Linked DNA regions of Homo sapiens. The protein of the gene in region 2 interacts with the protein of the main gene of each other region in a biochemical or structural test. Each region holds a gene or a part of one and is shown on either strand. Other genes may lie near its edges.

Region 1 (11,263 bases), on a different chromosome or scaffold from region 2:
TTCTCCATAGCTTGCTCATTTTTTCTAGGGCACTGAGAGCATTTTTGTACAACATATTCTTTTGAAACAGCTTATTCTTCATGTGGAAATAGGCAAAGAGAGAGAGAGAGAGAACACATTGTTTGTTATTTACTGTAGCCCTAATCCCCAGGACCTGTATCCAAGTTGTTTGATGGAATAATTTTATCTTCTGTGCTTCAGATCTGCTTGGCATTAAAGTTACGGGTCTTTGTCTCCTTTCTAGCGCTCTACTAGCCGACAGTTTGTTGATGGTCCCCCTGGACCTGTAAAGAAAACTCGTTCCATTGGCTCTGCAGTAGACCAGGTAAGAATAGTCAGGCCAAGGTAACAGAGATTACTGGCCCCAAGCATTAAAACTTCTCTGAGTCAGCATTGCAGCATTGTTTTGAGAGACATGATGTTTAGTTAAAGTTTTTGTTTGTTTTTTGAGACAGAGTTTTGTTCTTGTAGCCCAGGCTGGAGTGCAATGGCACCATCTTGGCTCACTGTAACCTCCACCTTCCAGGTTCAAGTGATTCTCTTGTCTCAGCCTCCCACGTAGCTGGGATTACAGGCGCATGCCACCACGTCTGGCTAATTTTTGTATTTTTAGTAGAGACAGGGTTTCATCATATTGGTCAGGCTGGTCTCGAACTCCTGACCAGGTGATCTACCTGCCTCAGCCTCCCAAAGTGCTGGGATTACAGGCGTGAGCCTCCGTGCCTGGCCTTTGGTTAAAGTTTTTCTATGCAGTAGGATCCTTATCCCTATGAATGGAATTACTCTGATGTAGTAAACAACTGTCAGAGTGAGTCTTAGTTGCTTGAATATATACCCCCATGACCTATGTTTATCTTCTTAGGTACGAGATTTCTTTATTTTTACTTTTTAAAGTAGAGGGGGAGTCTCTCCTTGCTGCCCAGGATGACTCGAACTGCGGGGCTCAAGTGATCTTCCCACCTTGGCCTCCCAAAATGCTGGGATTGCAGGCATGAGCCACTGCACCCAGCCAAACATCAGATTTCAACATAAGAATGTTTCAGGTCAGGCGTGGTGGCTCACGCCTGTAATCCCTGCACTTTGGGAGGCCTAGGCAGGTGGATGATCACCTGAGGTCAGGAGTTCGAGACCAGCCTGGTCAACATGGCGAAATCCCGTCTCTACTAAAAATACAAAAATCAGTCGGCCAGGCGCGGTGGCTCACGCCTGTAATCCTAGCACTTTGGGAGGCTGAGGCGGGTGGATCACGAGGTCAGGAGATTGAGACCATCCTGGCTAACACAGTGAAACCCCATCTCTACTAAAAATACAAAAAATTAGCTGGGCATGGTGGCAGACGCCTGTAGTCCCAGCTACTCGGGAGGCTGAGGCAGGAGAATGGCGTGAACCCGGGAGGTGGAGCTTGCAGTCAGCCGATATTGGGCCACTGTACTCCAGCGTGGGCGACACAGCGAGACTCCGTCTCAAAAAAAAAAAAATCAGTCAGGTGTGGTGGCGCATGCTTGTAATCCCAGCTACTCAGAAGGCTGAGGCAGGAGAATGCCTTGAACCTGGGAGGCGGAGGTTGCAGTGAGCCGAGATCACGCCACTGTTCTCCAGCCTGGGCGGTAGAGTGAAAAACTCTGTCTCAAAAAAAAAGTATCAGACTGGGGTCTTAAGTCTTGACTAAGACTAAGGAATTTTTTACCTGCTCCAAAATACCCTATAGTGGAGGGTAAGTTAGATTCTTTGTTTGTCTTTCCTCATTACTACTTTTGTTGCAGGGGAATGAATCCATAGTTGCAAAAACTACAGTGACTGTTCCCAATGATGGCGGGCCCATCGAAGCTGTGTCCACTATTGAGACTGTGCCATATTGGACCAGGAGCCGAAGGAAAACAGGTCCATTGAATTTGTGACTAAACTGGCCTGTGTAAAACAACTAGCAAAATTTTGGAGAGTTGGTTTCTTAGAACCCTCTGGAGGCGGGGATTGGATGTATTGGGTAGTTTCTTACTGCTGCATACCGAGGACCAGAGAACTGCTTGTGTCATGCTTTACCTTTGAATTGCTAGCCCACTGGCATAACTTTAGTTTTTCTTGAAACTGTTTTTTTACATAGCCATTAGTTCTCACTTTTGGCTATGATAACAGATTACTGTTTATCTCCCAGTTAAAATTGGAGCTAAAATTTAGAAGGAGCAAAATACTTAAGACACAAAGCTTAAAAGTTGCTTGTTTTCTAGGTACTTTACAACCTTGGAACAGTGACTCCACCCTGAACAGCAGGCAGCTGGAGCCAAGAACTGAGACAGACAGTGTGGGCACGCCACAGAGTAATGGAGGGATGCGCCTGCATGACTTTGTTTCTAAGACGGTAAATCTGTGATTGTTGTTTGTGTTTTAATTTTTTAATTGTGAAAGTAATAAATACCAGGAATAAAGTTAAATACTTTAGTGTTATAAAGTTAAATGTCAAATTTCCTTCCTCATTCCAATTTTACTCTCCAGAAGTAACTATTGGTTACAGAGGTAAGTTTCTTTCCATTCTGTGAGTAATACTAAATTAAAGAGACCAACTTTTCTGAAGCAATTGTTAGTACTTTTTTTTTTTTAATTTGAGACAGAGTCTTACTCTGTCACCCAGGCTGGAGTGCAGGGGTGTAATCATAGCTCACTGTAGCCTTAACCTCCCAGTCTCAAGCAATCCTCCTGCCTCAGCCTCCTGAGTAGTAGGGATACAGATGTGTGCCACCACGCCCGGCTAATTTTTAAATTTTTTGTAGAGACTTGGTCTTGCTATGTTGCTCAGGCTGGTCCTGAACTCCTGGGCTCAAGTGCTCCCCCTGCCTCAGCTCCCAAAGTCCTGGGATTACAGGCATGAGCTACTGTGCCTGGCCCATTGTTAGTACTTTTTAGTGACACATGTTTACATTTTTTCTTGAATATATCACCTAAGATTTTCAAAATGTTTTGCTTTTGTACCATTTTATTTCCTTATAAAAATCCAAGCAAATTAACTGAGGCTCAGAGGAGTTAACTGACATTTTTGAGCCACATGATAGTAAGTGACAGATTTCACATCCAGGTTTTCTTTTTTTCTTTTTTTTTCTTGAGACAGAGTCTCACTCTGTTGCCCAGGCTGGAGTGCAGTGGTGCGATTTCGGCTCACTGCAACCTCTGCCTCCCGGGTTCAAGCAATCCTCCTGCCTCAGCCTCCCGAGTAGCTGGGATTACAGGTGCCCACCACCATGCCCGGCCAATTTTTTGTACTTTTAGTAGAGATGGGGTTTCACCATGTTGGCCAGGCTGGTCTCAAACTACTGACCTCAGGTGATCCTCCCGCCTCAGCCTCCCAAAGTGCTGGGATTACAGGCGTGAGCCACCATGCCCTGCCAACATCCAAGTTTTCTGCTCTTTGTAAACAAGTTCTTTCCACTATCACACACTGCTGCCTTCCAGTGGGATGACCTTAAACAAGTTACTTAAACTCTCTTTGCTTCTGTTTCCTCATCTTAAAATGAAGAAAACAAAACCTATTTTATGGGATTACTGTGAGAATTACATATGTAAATATGTCTAAAGGGCTTAGAAAATTTTTTGGCACATACTAAGTGCTCAATAAATGTTAGTTGATTATGGCTGGGCACAGTGGCTCACGCCTGTAATCCCAGCACTTAGGGAGACTGACGCAGGCAGATCACCTGAGGTCGGGAGTTCGAGACCAGCCTGACCAACATGGAGAAACCCCGTCTCTACTAACAATATAAAAATTAGCCGGGCGTGGTGGCGCATGCCTGTAATCCCAGCTACTTGGGAGGCTGAGGCAGGAGAATCGCTTGAACCCGGGAGGTGGAGGTTGCAGTGAGCCAACCTCTACCACGCCATTGCACTCCAGCCTGGGCAACAAGAGCGAAACTCTGTCTCAAAAAAAGACAAAAAAAGGCCAGGCCCAGTGGCTCACGCCTGTAATCCCAGCACTTTGGGAGGTCGAGGTGGGTGAATCACAAGGTCAGGAGTTCGAGACCAGCCTGGCCAACATGGTGAAACCCTGTCTCTACTAAAAATACGAAAAATTAGCTGGGCGTAGTGGTGGGCACCTGTAATCCCAGTTACTCGGGAGGCTGAGACAGGAGAATCGCTTGAACCTGGGAGGCAGAGGTTGCAGTGAGCTGAAATCACACCACTGCACTCCAGCCCAGGCGAGAGAGTGAGATTCGGTCTCAAAAAAAAAAAAAAAAAAAAGTTAGTTGATTATGATGATAATTTTCTAATTCATATCACTCTGTTCCTTCTGCCCTGTTTTATCCCAGGTTATTAAACCTGAATCCTGTGTTCCATGTGGAAAGCGGATAAAATTTGGCAAATTATCTCTGAAGTGTCGAGACTGTCGTGTGGTCTCTCATCCAGAATGTCGGGACCGCTGTCCCCTTCCCTGCATTCCTACCCTGATAGGAACACCTGTCAAGATTGGAGAGGTATGACTTATGCAAGCCGTCATTGTTTTATGGCCTCTTTATTCGCCTTTCAAAGGCTTAGTGTCAGTTTTTGTTCTAAAATTAATCATCTCAAATATATTTCTTTCCACAAATAATGACTAGAATTGTAAGATACTTACTTGTAGAAGAGTCCTGTTTGGGTTTGTCTGTCTAATACCTTTCTAAACCAAACTTCTTTCCCCGCCCCTTTTTCCTTCTTGCTCTTCCCTGCTTCTCCTTGCCTCTTCTTCCTTCCTTCCTCCCCTTCATCCCATTTTGGAAAATTTCAGACATATATAAAACTAGAGAAATTAGTATAACTAACCCCTGGTTCTTATCACTTAACTTCCATGATTACTAACTTGTGTCCATTTTTTTTTTTTTTTTTTTTTTTTTTTTTTTTTTTTTTTTAGCTCTATTGCCTAGGCTGGAGTGCACTGGCAGGATGTCAGCTCACTGCAACCTCCGCCCCCCTGGGCTCAAGCGATTTTCTTGCCTCAGCCTCCCAAGTACCTGGAATTACAGGCATGTACCACCACCATGCCCGGCTAATTTTTTTTGGTTGTATTTTTTAGTAGAGATGGGGTTTCATCATGTTGGCCAGGGTGGTCTCAAGCTCCTGACCTCAAGTGATCCGCCCACCTCAGCCTCTCAAAGTGCTGAGACTACAGGCGTGAGCCACCGCGCCTGGTCATGTCCATTCTTTTTTTAATGTCTCTCTTTTTTTTGAGACAGAGTTTCCCTGTTGTCCAGGCTGGATTGCAGTGTTGCAACTTTGGCTCACTGCAGCCTCTGTCTCCTGGGCTCAAGTGATTCTCATGCCTCAGCCTCCCAAGTTGCTGGGACTACAGCCATGTGCCACCATGCTCAACTAATTTTTTTGTATTTTTAGTAGAGACGGGGTTTTGCCATGTTGGCCAGGCTGGTCTTGAACTCCTGACCTCAAGTGATCCGCCTGCCTCGGCCTCCTAAAGTGTTGGGATTCTAGGTGTGAGCCATGGCACCCAGCCTTTATGTCTGTTCTTGATTTATCAATACTGTCGTTGCCTCCTCCTGACTCTGTCCAATGAATTACTTGGAAGCAAATCTCAGCTATCATATAATTTTATCTGTGATAAAATTATCTTTTATTCTTGCTCTTATGTTAGACATACTTCATAATAGGTTATCAAAATGAAGTTGCTTATTTCCAAATATTTAACCAGTTTAATCCAAACTGATTAAATCCATTAAGAAATTATTTATTGCTGAGTGTGGTAGCTCATGCCTGTAATCCCAGCACTTTGGGAGGCTGAGGCAGGAAAATCACTTGAGCCCAAGAGTTTGAGACCAGCCTGGACAACAAAGCAAGACTCCATCTCTACAAAGAATAAATAAATAAGTTAGCCAGGTTAGTGGTGTGCGCCTGTGTTTGTAGCTCCTCAGGAGGCTAGGTTGGACTATTGCTTGAGGTGGGGAGGTTGAAACTGCAGTGAGCTGTGATCACACCACTGCACTCCAGCCTGGGGAATAGAGCAAGACCCTATCTCAAAAAAAAAAAAAATTATTATGTAAGTAACATTAGCAAGAATCAAAATGACTATCTTCCTACCTACTCTTCAGCAAATCAAATATTATTTTCCCCTGATCTTACAAGTTCTTATCCATGCCTGTACATTTTGTTTTGTTTTGTTTTGTTTTGTTTTGTTTTTGAGAGGGAGTTTTGTTCTTGTTGCCCAGGCTGGAGTGCAATGGCGCAATCTCGACTCACCACAACCTCCACCTCCTGGGTTCAAGCGATTCTCCTGCCTCAGCCTCCCTCATAGCTGGGATTACAGGCATGCGCCACCATGCCTGGCTAATTTTGTATTTTTAGTAGAGACAGGGTTTCTCCATGTTAGTCAGGCAGGTCTCGAACTCCTGACCTCAGGTGATCCGCCCACCTCGGCCTCCTACAGTGCTGGGATTACAGGCGTGAGCTACCGCACCTGGCCGCCTGTACATTTTTTTTACACATGTTCTGTACTCTAATATAGAACCATGGAGTTCTCCCCTACAGGTAGGTTTGTGTCATAATCAACTGATAAGATATGTTAAATAATTTTTTTTACTGAGAATAATGAAAGTATACACAATTTTTTTCTCTTGTTCCAGCTTTCTTCTGTTAGAAAAAAAAATCTGTTTAGAGTAATAAATTATTTTATATTAAAGGCTATACCTGTAACCTCATTATTGCTTGTTTTCTGCTGTCCTTGAGTGGATGAGAAGGAGGTAATTATAGCTGGTGGTCTTATTCCTTGTTCACATAACAGTGTGGTGTATATATGAAAAAGAAAAAGTGTGGTATATATGATAATAAATCAGTCCTGGTGTGGAGGTAGGAAAAATAATTGAGAGTCTCTGTTTTAATATATGCTTTGGGAATAGGAATGTAAAAGTAGACATGATGTCCCAGTTTGAGAATAAGATTGGAGGTGGTTCTTCGCATGTGGTCTTCATCTGTTGGTCTACATGGCGTAAATAATAATTTAAAGCTCTTTTTTTTTTCCAGGGAATGCTGGCAGACTTTGTGTCCCAGACTTCTCCAATGATCCCCTCCATTGTTGTGCATTGTGTAAATGAGATTGAGCAAAGAGGTCTGACTGAGGTAAGAGTCAACTGTAGGAGATGGTGAATTTGTTATTTGTGTTAATTCGGAGGTTTTTAAATAAAAATGTCATCTTGATAATAGACAGGCCTGTATAGGATCTCTGGCTGTGACCGCACAGTAAAAGAGCTGAAAGAGAAATTCCTCAGAGTGAAAACTGTACCCCTCCTCAGCAAAGTGGATGATATCCATGCTATCTGTAGCCTTCTAAAAGACTTTCTTCGAAACCTCAAAGAACCTCTTCTGACCTTTCGCCTTAACAGAGCCTTTATGGAAGCAGCAGGTAAGGGCAGATGTAATACTTGAATATGAATTCCTCCACGGCAGTAGTTTTTCTTACTCTCTTTATTTTTTTATTTATTTTTTATTTTTTAGACAGAGTCTCACTCTCGCCCAGGCTGAAGTCAGTGGCGCAATCTCAGCTCACTGCAACCTCCGTCTCCCAGGTTGAAGCGATTCTCCTGCCTCAGCCTCCTGAGTAGCTAGGATTACAGGCGTGTGCCACCATGCCTGGTTAATGTTTTCTATCTTTAGTAGAGATGGGGTTTCACCATGTTAGCCAGGATGGTCTCGATCTCCTGCCCTGTGATTTGCCTGCCTCGGCCTCCCAAAGTGCTGCGATTACAGGCGTGAGCCACCGTGCCCAGCCTCTTTTTTTTTTTTTTTTAAGACGGAGTCTTTCTCTGTCGCCCAGGCTGGAGTGCAGTGGCGCTATCGGCTCACTGCAAACTCCGCCTCCTGGGTTCAAGCGATTCTCCTGCCTCAGCCTCCTGAGTAGCTGAGATTACAGGCGTTAACGGTGTTATACCATGTTAGCCAGGCTGGTCTCAAACTCCTGACCTCAGGTGATCTACCCACCTTGTCCTCCCAAAGTGCTGGGATTACAGGCATGAGCCACCACACCTGGCCACCTTCCTCTTTTTATTAGCTCCTGCCTAGTACAATGCCTGAAACATAGTAGGTGCTCAAGTAGTTTGATGGATGAGTAACTGTATGCGTGTCACCCTTGCCTATCCTCTTGCTTTCTCATTACGTTATTGTGTACAGTGTTCTTCCTTTCTTTCCTTCCTCTCCAGTTAGGTTGGAGCTTTTTCAATTCTTAGAATATACCAAGTTTACTCCCTACCTTAAGGCCTTCACATTTGTTGTCTCAACCTGAATGCTCTTACATTAGATACAGTATGGTTTGCTCCTTTATTTCTTTCATATTTCTCTTCATATACCTTGTCCCCAGAAACACCTTTCCTGACAACCTTGTCTAGATTAACAGCTCTCATTTCTTTCTAGCTTCTTGCCTGCCTTGTTTTCTTCATTTATGTATCACTCTACCTGATAGGTATTTGCTTTTTGACTGACTCCACCAATAGAATGTAGGTTCCATAAGATAAGGGCTTTGTTTACTTCTGCTTTATCCTCAGCACTTGTACCTGGCACATCGTAGGCCCTTAAATATGTCTCATGAATGAATACCTTCTTGGTAATTGTAGTCACTGCAATTGTATGCCTGTCTGCCTAGCACATCAGTTGCCAACTGCTTTCCCTAACTGCAAAGGCCGATTTTTTAAAAGTTTTGACTTCTAATATTGAGCTGTTGGCCAGTATCCTGCTTGTTAATGAAACTAGAGTCTGATGTAGTCATGAACTAATCAGGAGTTTCAGAAGCTTACTGTATAGATGAGACTTTGTGGTCGATAACTTGGAAGCCCGCTGTCAAGGGAAAGAAGTCTAGGCCTCTTGGTGCTTTCTTTTCAATTACAGAAATCACAGATGAAGACAACAGCATAGCTGCCATGTACCAAGCTGTTGGTGAACTGCCCCAGGCCAACAGGGACACATTAGCTTTCCTCATGATTCACTTGCAGAGGTGAGTACAGCAGAAACTTGTTCTGGGAGTTAGGGAATTTTTTTCCAAGGGGAAGATAATGTGGGTTGAGTGTTTGGGAGTATGAGGGATGAATTGTTTTCTTATAGAATTTATATTTTGGTCTGCATTTAAGCAAGGAGCAAGACTTCTAATTTAATATTCTTTTGCTTAGAGTGGCTCAGAGTCCACATACTAAAATGGATGTTGCCAATCTGGCTAAAGTCTTTGGCCCTACAATAGTGGCCCATGCTGTGCCCAATCCAGACCCAGTGACAATGTTACAGGACATCAAGCGTCAACCCAAGGTAGGCAGGTGCGTGTGTGTGTGTATGTGAACTTGTGTAATGTGATAACTTGAAAGACAGTTGAGAAGCCCTGAGCTTTGGAAGTTTGCTAACAGATTTGCTGGCTTTTAGGTGGTTGAGCGCCTGCTTTCCTTGCCTCTGGAGTATTGGAGTCAGTTCATGATGGTGGAGCAAGAGAACATTGACCCCCTACATGTCATTGAAAACTCAAATGCCTTTTCAACACCACAGACACCAGATATTAAAGGTAAGGCCCAAGATGTGCTTCTTCAGGGACTTGACTCTCTCTTTAGTTTTAGTCATATGACCTCTTCCTGCCTTTGCTAGAGCTGTTTGAAAATTCTAACATTAAAGGAAAATTTGTATAATTCTACCATCGTAATTTTTTTTTGCTTTTCCATGTTCTCCTTTCTTTATCCATATGGATATATGTTTTTTAAATATAGATATAATAGGCTGGGCATGGTGGCTCACACCTGTAGTCCCAGCACTTTGGGAGGGAGGCTGAGGCGGACGGATCACAAGGTCAGGGGATTGAGACCATTCTGGCCAACATGGTGAAACCCCATCTCTACTAAAAATACAAAAATTAGCTGGGTGTGGTGGCGCATGCCTGTAATCCCAGCTACCAGGGCGGCTGAGGCACAAGGAATTGCTGGAACCCAGGAGGCGGAATTTGCAGTGAGCTGAGATCCCGCCACTGCACTCCAGCCTGGTGACAGAGTGAGACTCTGTCTAAAAAAAAAAAAAAAAAAAAAAAAAAAATATATATATATATATATATATAATAGTTTAAATATAATTCATTCTTATTTCACTTAGCATGTTGTGAGAACTTTTTCTCATGTATAATCTTATTTATCATTTACTTAAATGTTCTAGTAGGTATTAACATTATTTTTCAATTTTTCATAATTACAAGTAATGCTATAGTCAATATAGCATTTCTCTTAATGATAAATTCCTAAGAGTGGGATCACTGAATTAAATGGCTTGAACATTTTTATGTGTCTTGGTATGTTTTACCAACTTGATTTATTAAATTTCTTATAGGCTTTTGCCAATTTATATTGCTAACCAACAATTTTATATGAATAGGCTGGTTTCACTCCAGTCTCACTGGCATTGGAGACCCATTCTTTCATTATTGCAAGTTCCTTCTAAGGGAGCATATTGCTTCTTCTAGTATAGCTAAAAGTCAGATGTTTAGATGTTAGATTTGTGAAGTGTGGAGTTAGAGAATGGCCTAAATCAGGACGTGTCAGCTATTCATTGAGTTCAAAAGATACACTAGTGTGTTACAGAATGATGACAAAAATGATCTCTGGGACTTTGCTAGATGTCTAACCTTAGCTCTTAAGTGCTTCAGAGGGTAATCAGCTTAAAACTAGCCATCTAAAAAGATGCCTTCTTTTTTCCCACCTCTCTTAAAAATATGTCTGAACTTTGAAGTGAGTTTACTGGGACCTGTGACCACTCCTGAACATCAGCTTCTCAAGACTCCTTCATCTAGTTCCCTGTCACAGAGAGTCCGTTCCACCCTCACCAAGAACACTCCTAGGTATGCAGAATTGGCCTTCCTAGGAAATAAAAAACAACTACTTTCTTAGACTTCTTATTATATTGAAGCTTATTGAAAGAAAAATTGCATTCGATTTTAGCTAGCAACTAGACTTTAAAAGGGAACGTGGGGCTATAAGGATTCCTTCTTTAAAAAGGTTCTGAAAGTCTTTACTATTTCCCCTCTCTCGTTGTTGGTGACTAAGAATACTTAAGCAACTATTGCAAAATAGTTGTCTAGGGTTTCCTACTTATAATGGGTTATATCAAGTAATATTATAGTTGTTTATTCAACCATTTTTTATAGAATATTTTTCCAGTTCATTCTCTTTTTATTGTAGATTTGGGAGCAAAAGCAAGTCTGCCACTAACCTAGGACGACAAGGCAACTTTTTTGCTTCTCCAATGCTCAAGTGAAGTCACATCTGCCTGTTACTTCCCAGCATTGACT
Region 2 (11,263 bases):
GGCAGATGATACTGAAAACGGGAAACGTACTCTTAGGATGGCAGCTGTATGGTAGGGCTAGAGAGCAAATGGCTCAGAACGGGCAGATGATACTGAAAACGGGAAACGTGTTGTTTAGGACGTTGGAGGTGAGCACCACAGGGAACAGCCACAGGAACTGAATGTGGCCGGGGCTGCACTGCAGACGGTCAGTGGGTGGTGCCAGGCGGCAGTGTGGACTTCACACCACACACACGGAAAACAGATGAACATACTCCAGACTCAAATGAAACCTCCACAGTCAACTCGACAAAGGCATCTAGGCTGGACATGGTGGCTCACGCCTCTGATTTCAGCACTTTGGGGGGCCAAGGTGGGAGGATCGCTTGAGGCCAGGCGTTTGAGACCAGCATGGGCAACATGGCAAGACCTCATCTCTATAAAAAAATTAAAAACTAGGCCGGGCACGGTGGCTCACGCCTGTAATCCCAGCATTTTGGGAGGCTGAGGCAGGCAGATCACAAGGTCAGGAGTTCAAGACCAGCCTGGTCAATATGGTGAAACCCCGTCTCTACTAAAAATACAAAAATTAGCCCAGCGTGGTGGTGCATGCCTGCAAGTCCCAGCTACTCAGGAGGCTGAGGCAGAAGAATCGCTTGAACCTGGGATGCGGAGGTTGCGGTGAGCCAAGATTGCGCCACTGCACTCCAGCCTGGAGACAGAGAGAGACCCCGTCTCAAAAAAAAAAAAAAAAAAGCTGGGTGTGGTGGTGCACACCTGTAGTCCCAGCTACATCGAAGGCTGAGGGAGGCGGGTCGCTTGAGCCTGGGAGGTGGAGGCTGTAGTCAGCACTCAGCCTGAGCAACAGAGCGAGGCCCTGTCTCTCAAAAAACAAAACAAAACAAGTGCATCTGGCAGCCCCCCGGATTCTCCTTGACAAGGAGGAGACAGTGGTCTTTGGTGGCACTGCTTATGTGTAGCGCACTACGGGAGTCCAGCCCCTTCACCAGCATGCCTGGCCCCTCTCCACTCTGCAGCAGGGGCTGGTAGCAGGCCCTCTTCTGCTGAGAATCCTGGAGAACGGGCAGCCGCCAAGCCCAGGGTCTTCACTCCACAAGAGCACATGCTTTGCTTTGTTAGAATTAAAATGATGTGCAAGTTATGCCCACAATCCCATGAGGCATTCCAATTCTCAGCGCTCACAGGGCAGATGGTCACAAATGTTAGTACCGTGAGGGTGAGGGCTTGGGGGCTTTGGGGATGCTGACCACAAATGCCCTGCTGCCAACACACGTGTGTGCAGGCTGCTCAGAGCCCTGAATCTACCTGCTCAGTGGTGATGAAGACACTGAAGCTTCAAGGGACAGGGCCCTTGGCCGAGCTGAGAATATGTGGAAGAGCCGGGATGTGCCCGCGCAGCTGGGCAGGGACAGAAGCTCACAGGAAGAACCTCTTCTGCAGATCCCACAGGTGCCTCATAGGCCTCCTGGCTGCCTCCTCTGCCCACAAGAGGCTGCCGGTGCCCAGCTACAGGTGTCATAGCCTGGGTAGCTGACTCCTGGGACAAGCTCATCTTACTTTGCACCGGAAACAGTCCTGCAAATCGGCTATGAGACAACATGGCGTGCCTCGTGTGAAAAACACCGAGAATTACACGGTATTCTAAGAAAAGTCTGCAAACCAGAGTGAGGCAAGCAGCTCCCACTCTTTCTCTGCAAACACGGCGTCACACTTCGCTTCCTCCCCAGCACTCCTGCCCACAGCGATGAGACTGCGCGTCCTGTCGCGTACTCAGCAGTCACTGCTCATTTCGCTTTCTGCTGCTGAGCGACTTCTCTAACCTGCATTCTTCCAGGACGGGCAAACCCCGTATGGACCAGAGTGGTGGGAGAGCTGCACCTCCAGGCCTGCTGGTGAGGCTGAGCACTGCGTGGGTTCGCAGTCAGTTCCTCCTCTGTGTGGGTCAGGTCTCAGCGCTCCCGAGAGGGAGGCAGTGCCCTCCTCTGGCCCTCTGTGTGTCTAGGGTTCCATGAGAGCACCAGTCAGAGCCTCGGGTCGCCTGCCTGCAGCCCACTGGGTAGGCTCAGATGACCACCTGGCACCACCCCCTCAGCCGGCTTCCAACGGGGATGGACGGGTGGCCAAGCCCCTGCTGTGTGAGGTAAAGAGAAGTAAATGGGGGCTGACAGGCGGGCACAGGAGGCGCCACGCAGAGGCCCGGGTCTCCTGGCCCAGGCTCACCTGTGCACCAGCTGCAGGTTCTCCTGCCTCAGGCGGCTGTGTTGCTCACCGGTGGCTGCCGTGTCCTTTTCCAGCTCCAGCACACGCCTTTCCAGGAAGACAACCTTGGCAATGAGACCAGGCTTCAGGGTCAGGCAGCCAGAAGCAGAAGGGCCTGCACCCCCAAGGGAACAACCTGGGAGGCCGCCTGGGGATTTTCTCAGCACAGAATCAGATCCACCTAGCTAGGCTGGTGTTGGATCCAACTTGTCCCATAAACCCACAAAGGTGCAGCTCCTAATGGGGCCGGGGTCTTGGGGAGCACTGTCATTCGACCCACAAATGCACACAGTGCCGCAGCTCTGAGGGCTCGGGGCCCAGGGGTGCCTTTGGACTGGCTGGCTGGTGGGCAGCAAGACTCAGCCCCCCAACACACAGTTGGGTCTCTGCTCAGCCAGATGCAGCTCACAGAGGCAGCCCAGGTGCCCATGGATGCAAGGGACAGACAGATCCATGTCTCGGTCCCTCCCTCAGAGAGTTCACACCAAGATGAGAATCAGACACCTGCGGAGGTAGGAGAAGGAGTGAAGGGAGCAGAGGAGGACTTGGCCTGGGTCAGCAGACTTGAGATGCTAGAGAAGTTGTAGGGAGGAGGTGGTGGGGATGCAAGAGGAGGTGAAGTACAGGAGGAGGTGAGGAGGTACAGGAGGAGGTGAGAGAGTACAGGAGGAGATGGGGGTATAGGAGGAGGTGGGGGAGCAGGAGGAGGTGAGGGGGTACAGGAGGTGAGGGGTGCAGGAGGAGGTAAGGGGGTACAGGAGATGAGGGGGTACAGGAGGTGAGGGGGGTACAGGAGGAGATGGGGGTGCAGGAGGAGGTGAGGAGGGTGCAGGAAGAGGTGAGGGGGTATAGGAGGAGGTGAGGGGGTATAGGAGGAGGTGAGGCGGTACAGGAGGAGGTGAGGGGGTACAGGAGGTAAGGGGGGTGCAGGAGGAGGTGAGGGGGTACAGGAGGAAGTGAAGGGTACAGGAAGAGGTGAGGGGGGTACAGGAGGAGGTGAGGGGGTACAGGAGGTGAGGGGTGCACAAGGAGGTGAGGGGGTACAGGAGGAGATGGGAGTGCAGGAGGAGGTGAGGGGGTACAGGAAGAGGTGAGGGGGGTACAGGAGGAGGTGAGGGGGTACAGGAGGTGAGGGGTGCACAAGGAGGTGAGGGGGTACAGGAGGAGATGGGAGTGCAGGAAGAGGTGAGGGGGGTACAGGAGGAGGTGAGGGGGTACAGGAGGTGAGGGGTGCACAAGGAGGTAAGGGGGTACAGGAGGAGATGGGAGTGCAGGAGGAGGTGAGGGGGTACAGGAGGAGGTGAGGGGGGTACAGGAGGAGGTGAGGGGGTACAGGAGGAGGTGAGGGGGTACAGGAGGAGGTGAGGGGGTACAGGAGGTGAGGGGGTGCACAAGGAGGTGAGGGGGTACAGGAGGAGATGGGAGTGCAAGAGGAGGTGAGGGGGTACAGGAGGAGGTGGGGGGGTACAGGAGGAGGTGAGGGGGTACAGGAGGTGAGGGGGTACACAAGGAGGTGAGGGGGTACAGGAGGAGGTGAGGGGGTACAGGAGGTAGTGAGGGGGTACAGGAGGTAGTGAGGGGGTACAGGAGGTGGTGAGGGGGTACAGGAGGTGGTGAGGGGGTACAGGAGGAGATGAGGGGTACAGGAGGAATTGAGGGGGTACAGGAGTAAGTGAAGGGGTCACAGAAGGTGAGGGGGTGCAGAAGGTGAGACGGAGTCTCCCTCTGTCGCCCAGGCTGGAGTGCAGTCGTGCAATCTCGGCTCACTGCAACCTCCACCTCCCAGGTTCAAGTGATTCTCCTGCCTCAGCCTCCCAAATAGCTGGGATTACAGTTGCCCGCCACCATGCGTGGCTAACTTTTGTATTTTTAGTAGAGACGGGTTTTCACTATGTTGGCCAGGCTGATCTCAAACTCCTGACCTCAAGTGATCTGCCCGCCTAGGCCTCCTAATGTGCTGGGATTCCAGGCGTGAGCCACCACATCTGGCTGAAAAGCGGGTCTTGACCACGGCAAGGCTGCCTTGCCCTGGCTGCTGTCACCCATTCCATTCAAGGCCCCAGGAGAAGCCCGTTCCTCAGGCTGTTGGCTCTGCAGTAACTGCAGGGCCAGCCCTTTTCTCCCAAATCATGGGTGCCCCAGGTCGCGTCTCCATGGGCCTGGTGGACTGAATGTCTGGGTGTCCCCCAGCCCGACTCAGACACAGTGGGGGTGGGATACCCGAGGGTGCTCACTCACTGCCCAGTCCACTCCTCCCAGCTGGCCCTTCGTGCACAACAGGAAGACTCCTTTTTCTCACATGGCCACGAGACCCCTTGGGGAAACCTGCCAAAGAGCATCGGGGCTGGATGGACAGTCTGGGGAGCCCTGGAGGACATGGGGTCACCTCCGGCTGTGCTGTCCCCACCTCCCGGGGTGTCTGCAGCGGCCCTTAGGCGTGGCTGTGTTCTAAATCCCCTACTTGCCACCTACCCAGCCCTCCAGGGCCTACCTTGTCAGCAATGTCCTCCTCTGGGCCCTCCATGAGCTCGGGGGAAGGGTCCTCCAGGGCCTCCATGGTCAGGGCCCCTGACTGGTGCAGGTACCTACAGAAAAGGCACAACAACAGAGGGAAGAAAGGGAAAAACCACAGGACATGCTCCGTCAGCACAAGCACTCCCAAGTCAATCTGAAAAGCAGGCAGCAGCATTGCAGGGGACAGGTCCTCCCCTGATCTGGGTGGTGGTCTTCTCCCACTTAAAGCACTATATACAGGGGGAGGTCCCAGGCTGGACATCTTTACCAGGGGCTGGGAGAAAGCAGGCCGTGCTCTGTGGTCTCAGAGTCTTCCTGGCGCTCTTTGGAACCTGACAGAACATGACCTCAGTCCCAGCCAGCGAGTGGCAGAGAGGACTTTGTACTTGGCTGCAATAAAACATGCCCTTCTTCGCAGAGACACGAACAATCTCGTCTCTACCAGAGGCCTGTGAGACATCAGCTCAGGACCTTGACCTGCAGACACCTCCCCTGTGCACATTCTTGATCTCAGACTTTCACAGGTGCTTTCTGTGGCAGGAAGAGTGAGGGTCCCAGGAAAGGTGTGGATCCCAGAAGTCTCACTCAGTGTCACCCTCACGGACACACTGGGAAACTGGTCCGACCGAGTCCAGGAAGACAGCAGACACACGTGTCCTCTGTGGCACCAGCTCCTGTGGACACGCCCCCAGCACCGCAGGCCATGCCAGTTACTACCCGGGCCAGGCTCGGGGACACAGCCTCATGGTCCTGAGTAGACGCAAAGGCCCATAGGCTGCGGCCTTGGGGCAGGAGCTTCTCCAGGGAGTGTGAACTTAGGCGCGCAGTAAGCGCGTGCTTGTGGTCACCACGTGGTCAGATTCGCTGTGGTGAATCTGTACCAACCCAAACTTGCCGGGAGTACAGAAAACTCTCAGAGCACTCGCACAGAAGAGCCAACAGCAAAGGTGCGTGTTCAGTTCTTTATACATCCTGGGAACCTCAGTACCAAGCCAGGCTCCAGGCTGACAGCCTGATGCTCAGAACTGCGTGACCGTTAAAAAGCACTGGCCCTCTCCGAGCTTCCTTGCCTATGAAATGGGGGGACCCTCTCCCAGCCTCCTTGCCTATGAAATGGGGGGACCCTCTCCCAGCCTCCTTGCCTATGAAATGGGGGGACACTCTCCCAGACTCCTTGCCTATAAAATGGGGGGACCATCTCCCAGCTTCCTTGCCTATGAAATGGGGGATCCTCTCCGAACTTCCTTGTCTGTGAAATGGGGGGACCCTCTCTGAACTTCCTTGCCTGTGAAATGGGGGGACCCTCTCCCAGCTTCCTTGCCTATGAAATGGGGGACCTTCTCCGAACTTGTCTGTGAAATGGGGGGACCCTCTCCCAGCTTCCCTGCCTATGAAATGGGGGGAGCCTCTCTGAACTTGTCTGTGAAATGGGGGGACCCTCTCCCAGCTTCCTTGCCTGTGAAATGGGGGGACCCTCTCCCAGCTTCCTTGCCTATGAAATGGGGGACCCTCTCCCAGCTTCCTTGCCTGTGAAATGGGGGACCCTCTCCGAGCTTCCTTGCCTATGAAATGGGGGGACCCTCTCCCAGCTTCCTTGCCTATGAAATGGGGGGATCCTCTCCGAGCTTCCTTGCCTATGAAATGGGGGGACCCTCTCCCAGCTTCCTTGCCTATGAAATGGGAGACCCTCTCCGAGCTTCCTTGCCTATGAAATGGGGGGACCCTCTCCGAGTTTCCTTGCCTATGAAATGGGGGGACCCTCTCCCAGCTTCCTTGCCTATGAAATGGGGGTCTAGAGGCAACTGAGGTTTAACCAAGGTCATGCATACAAACAGCTTGGCTAGGGACGTAGCAGAGTAAGAATTCCATAAAATGTTAATATTTTTCCACTGAAAATGTCTACCAAGTGTATGAAGTTCGATTTGCTTCTCAGTACGGACTGGGCTTGAACATTTCCATCTTTTTCCCCATAAACGCTCTGAGGAGACAAGCCCTGTGAACGTGCACCAGCTGGAACACACCGGTGCCCTTCTGGGGCTCTGGGGATTTCATCAGATTCTCAAAAGCTGCTGCTGATACAGATCATGTTCTTGGCCAGTCGCTGCTCTTAAACGCCCATGACCTTGCCCCCAAACATGAGCCACTCCAGGCATGAAGCTGCAACCCAGAGCCCATCCTGAGAGGCCACGACCTGTCAGCACTTCTGAGCTGTCCTAGAGGCGTAGGCACTTCTGGGGCTGACTCGGGGACACAGCCATCCCCAGGCACCCAGCGTGCAGCCACCACACGTGGCCACCAACGTGAGGCAGAGGGTCCTCAGCATGGGTCATGCGGCTGCTTATTTATTTACTTATTTAATTTTTTTTTTTTTTTTTTTTTTTTTTTTTGCGACAGAGTCTTGCACTGTCACCTGGGCTGGAGTGCAGTGGTGCAATCTCAGCTCACTGCAACCTCTGCCTTCCGGGTTCAAGCCATTCTCCTGCCTCAGCCTCCCAGGTAGCTGGGATTACAGGCACCTGCCACCATGCCCAGCTAACTTTTTGTATTGTTTTTTTTAGTAGAGATGGGGTTTCACTATGTTGGCCAGGCTGGTCTCAAACTCCTGACCTCGTGATCTGTGCGCCTCGGCCCCCCAAAGTGCTGGGAGTACAGGCGTGAACCACCGCGTCCGGCTGGGGCTGCTTATTTAAATCCCCTAGAAAGAGGGATTCTCCAGCTACACCACACCCTCACTTGGAAGGACCCTCCTCCCAGAGAGGGAGCTGTGGAAAAAGCCTGACCTGCCCCACAGGGCAGTAGGTCGAGCCTGGCTGGTGAGCAAGGAGGTACGGGGATCCCTGAGGCCTCCCACCCAGGGCCCAGGGAGCCTGCCTGCTGTGAGCACTTCCTCCAGTCCTGATGGACTCGGCTCTGCCCGGAGCCCCCGGTCTCTGCACACACAGCTGACTGGAGAAAGCCACTTCCATCTCATGGACAGGGACAGAACAAGGCTGAGGGAGGTGAGCAATGCAGCCAGGCCCGGGGGCTACAATGGCTGCTGGCAAAACCCACCATCTCAGCAATAGTTCAGCGCGAAGGGCTGAGAACTGTGAGAAGCGAATCGCGACGTTTATTTTGCTCTTCCTTAGCCTCTTGTGGCAGATTTGGGGCAAAACAACAGATTAAATCTTGTGTACATATATTTACATGTGGATAGACACACTGCAGAAGAGGTCTCTGTTTTGTAAACTCTAACGACAGATAACTGCAGATGGAGCTTTTTTTTTTTTTTTTTTTTTTGAGACAGTCTTGCTCTGTCGCCCAGGCTAGAGTGCAGTGGCGTGATCTGGGCTCACTGTAACCTCTGCCTTCTGGGTTCAAGCAGTTCTCCTACCTCAGGCTCCTGAGTAGCTGGGATTACAGGCATGTGTGCCACCATGCCTAACTAATTTTTGTATTTTTAGTAGAGACGGGGTTTCACCATGTTGGTCAGGCTGTTCTTGAACTCCTGACCTCGTGATCCACCCACCTTGGCTTCCCAATGTGCTGGGATTACAGGCGTGAGCCACTGCGTCCGGCTCAGATTGGGCTTTTTTTATGCCAAAGGGTACCCGTGAAGGAAACATTAAATTTTAAAGGGTGTTTCTGACACAAGGCTGTGACAGCCAACTGCAGGCTGCGCCCCATCCTAGGCACGGGAGGCCTCAAGCAGATGCCTTAGCTGGCCTTGACCGGTCTTTCATGTCACCAGCTGCAGCCTGTCTGGAGTAAAAGACTTGATGAAGCGGGGAGGAAGGTGATGCTGAAGTGGTAACAGAAGTGTAGCTGGGGATGCACGTCACGTTCCTAAGAGCTCAATGCTTCTCTTTTTCTTTCTTTTTTTGAGATGGAGTCTCGCTCTTGTTGCCCAGGCTGGAGTACAATGGCACAATCTCGGCTCACTCCAAGCTCCGCCTCCAGGGTTCAGGTGATTCTCCTGCCTCAGTCTCCTGAGTAGCTGGGATTACAGGCACCTGCTAACACACCTGGCTAATCTTGTATTTTTTTAGTAGAGATGGGGTTTCTCCATTTTGGCCAGGCTGGTCTTGAACTCCCAACCTCAGGTGATCCACCCACCTCAGCCTCCCAAAGTGCTGGGATTACAGGCGTGACCTACTACGCCCGGCCAGCTCAATGCTTTTCTGAAAGGGGTGAGCAAGAAGACAGTTAGAAAAAGATGCATGATGACGTTCACCTCTGCTTCCTCTAGCCCCTAGCCCCTAGCCCCTAAAATGACAGAAAATGGAAAACAAGTGGGACGCGGTGGCTCCTGCCTGTAATTCCAACATTCTGGGAGACCGAGGTGGGAGGACTGCTAGAGCCCAGGAGTTCAAGACCAGTCTGGGCCTGTCTCTACAAAAAATTAAAAAATCATCTGGGTATGGTGGCATGCGCCTGTGGTCTCAGCTGCTCGGGAGGCTGAGGAGGGAGGATCATTTGAGCTTGGGAGGTCTGGGAAGTGAAAACTATTGAGAGCTGTGATGATGTCACTTCACAGAGCAAGACAGAGCAAGACTGTCTCAAAAAGAAAAGAAAGCCAAGAAAAGAGAAGAGAAACAAAAAGAAAAAAGTTTTCATCCATGGCCAGGTGTGACGGCTCATGCCTGTGATCCCAGTACTTTGGGAGGCCAAGGTGGGAGGATCCCTTCAGCCCAGGAGCTCAAGATCAGTCTGGGCAACGTAGTGAAACTCCATCTCTATTAAAAATTAAAAGACTAGCCAGGCATTGGCAATGCGCACCTGTAGTCCCAGGTCCTCAGGAGGAGGAGGTGGGAGGATGGAGTGAGCCTGAGAGGTCCAGGCTGCAGTGAGCTGTGATTGCACCACGGTACTTCAGCCCAGGTGACAGAGCAAGACAATGTCTCAAAATAAAAGAAAATGGAAAACAAAAGGTTTCTGTTCTTGGCTGGGTGTGGTGGCTTACCTCTGTAATCCGAGAATTTTGGGAGGCTGAGGTGGAAAGATTACTTAAGCCCAGGGAGTCTGGGGCTGTTGTGAGCTATGCTTGCACCTATGAATTGCCACTCACTGCACTACAGCCTGGGCAACGCAGCTAGACCTTGCCTATTTTCCTTTTTTTTTTTTAATTTTTAATTTTTAATTTTTTTTTTTTTTTTGTAGAGACAGGGTTTCACTAAGTTGCTCAGGCTGGTCCCAAAGAAACCGAGTCAGAAAGGTTAAACTTCATGGTAACAACTTTAGCTCTAGAAGATAAGCAATGCCGTCAAAAATCTTACAGGAAAATGATCCCACTCTCACAGTACAAACCAACCCAAGCTCAAGTTTATCTCCTGAGCACCTCTTTTCTCAAGAAGCTACAGGAAGATACGCTGGACAAAAACCAGAGAAAACAAATGAGAAGGAAGACGGGGCCAGGGAGCTAGAGGATCCAACCCCCGAAACAAAGGAACCCACCAGTGTGGGGAGACCTGTCCAGGACCACAGCCACGAGGCCTGGAGAACGCCCGGCACAACAGGGCAGAGAGGAGGCTCCAGAGGGGATGCTCCAGAGGAAGCTGGAGAGGCGTCTCCCAGCCCTGCCAGATGCCGGGCCACGAAGCAGGACGGGGACTAGGAAGGCAAAGCAGATAAAGACACAAAGGCAGACTCTGACGGCAGCAGAGGCCACCCGGCAGCCACACTGAGTGGCTCCCTGGGAAGGGCCTTAACCCTGCATGTTTATTTCGGTAAGAACTGGCAGGGGAGGAAGATAAAAGTGTATGTTGCCATCTTTCACAGCAGGAAGCCAACAGATCTATACGAAGCTGGAAAATGAAGAAATGGTCTTTAGGAATTGGAGTCAGACCCATCCCTCACCTTCGACTCACCTTGGGGAGCTGCCCAGACCCGGCTCTGAGAAGCCAGGCTCCTCACTGGGTCTCGCTACCTCAGAGCTAACATAGAGCAGACATCTGGGGATGGCGGCCCCTTCCAGACCTTAGTGAACACACAAGAGGCCCAGCACCAAAAGCTCTGACACGTACCCTCCCTGGTCACAAATCCAGGTCCAAATTCACAGCCCTGGAAACCCCTTTCCCAACACTCCTTCAGGATACCTTCAGCCCCAAACCATGTAAAGTAACTTGCAAGAGTTTAAAAAATACCTTGGAAAAGAACATTTTAAAATGTTTTTTAAAAAACTATGATTAATTATCCACTTCAGAACGTTTTTCAGCAGGAACCAGAGACCCACCTACCTTGCCACCTTCTTGCTGGAGAGCCGCTTTGTCGGACTGTGCAGAAAACAAAATAAACAGGAAAATTGTTAGAACAGACAGAGAGGAGCAGGAGGAAGCAGGAAACTCAGGCTGTGGAGATACGAGGTGGGCGGCCTTTCAGCAATGCTCCCGGCATGCAGGGCCCCCCAGGCAAGTCCATGCACAAATGCTCACTCAGCAAAACAGCAAGGACACGGCAGTGCTGGGGTGAGGCCGCATACGTCTCGTTACTCCAGCCCCCAAAGAGGCTTCCA

The links.
Region 1: the proteins of RAB11FIP3 (region 2) and RACGAP1 form a complex in vitro, tested with the Homo sapiens proteins (one study listed by IntAct).

The regions. Positions count from the first base shown.
Region 1 is NC_000012.12:49,990,234-50,001,496, reverse strand, and holds part of RACGAP1 (rac GTPase-activating protein 1), read left to right. Parts: intron 1-244; coding exon 245-325; intron 326-1,763; coding exon 1,764-1,881; intron 1,882-2,225; coding exon 2,226-2,356; intron 2,357-4,292; coding exon 4,293-4,457; intron 4,458-6,987; coding exon 6,988-7,083; intron 7,084-7,167; coding exon 7,168-7,366; intron 7,367-8,841; coding exon 8,842-8,947; intron 8,948-9,119; coding exon 9,120-9,252; intron 9,253-9,363; coding exon 9,364-9,499; intron 9,500-10,704; coding exon 10,705-10,813; intron 10,814-11,153; coding exon 11,154-11,229; 3' UTR 11,230-11,263.
Region 2 is NC_000016.10:496,585-507,847, reverse strand, and holds part of RAB11FIP3 (rab11 family-interacting protein 3), read right to left. Parts: intron 11,025-11,263; coding exon 10,989-11,024; intron 10,557-10,988; coding exon of another isoform or gene 10,547-10,556; exon of another isoform or gene 7,861-10,546; intron 4,845-7,860; coding exon 4,751-4,844; intron 4,585-4,750; coding exon of another isoform or gene 4,555-4,584; exon of another isoform or gene 4,183-4,554; intron 2,325-4,182; coding exon 2,221-2,324; intron 1-2,220. UniProt on the Homo sapiens protein: Downstream effector molecule for Rab11 GTPase which is involved in endocytic trafficking, cytokinesis and intracellular ciliogenesis by participating in membrane delivery. Recruited by Rab11 to endosomes where it links Rab11 to dynein motor complex.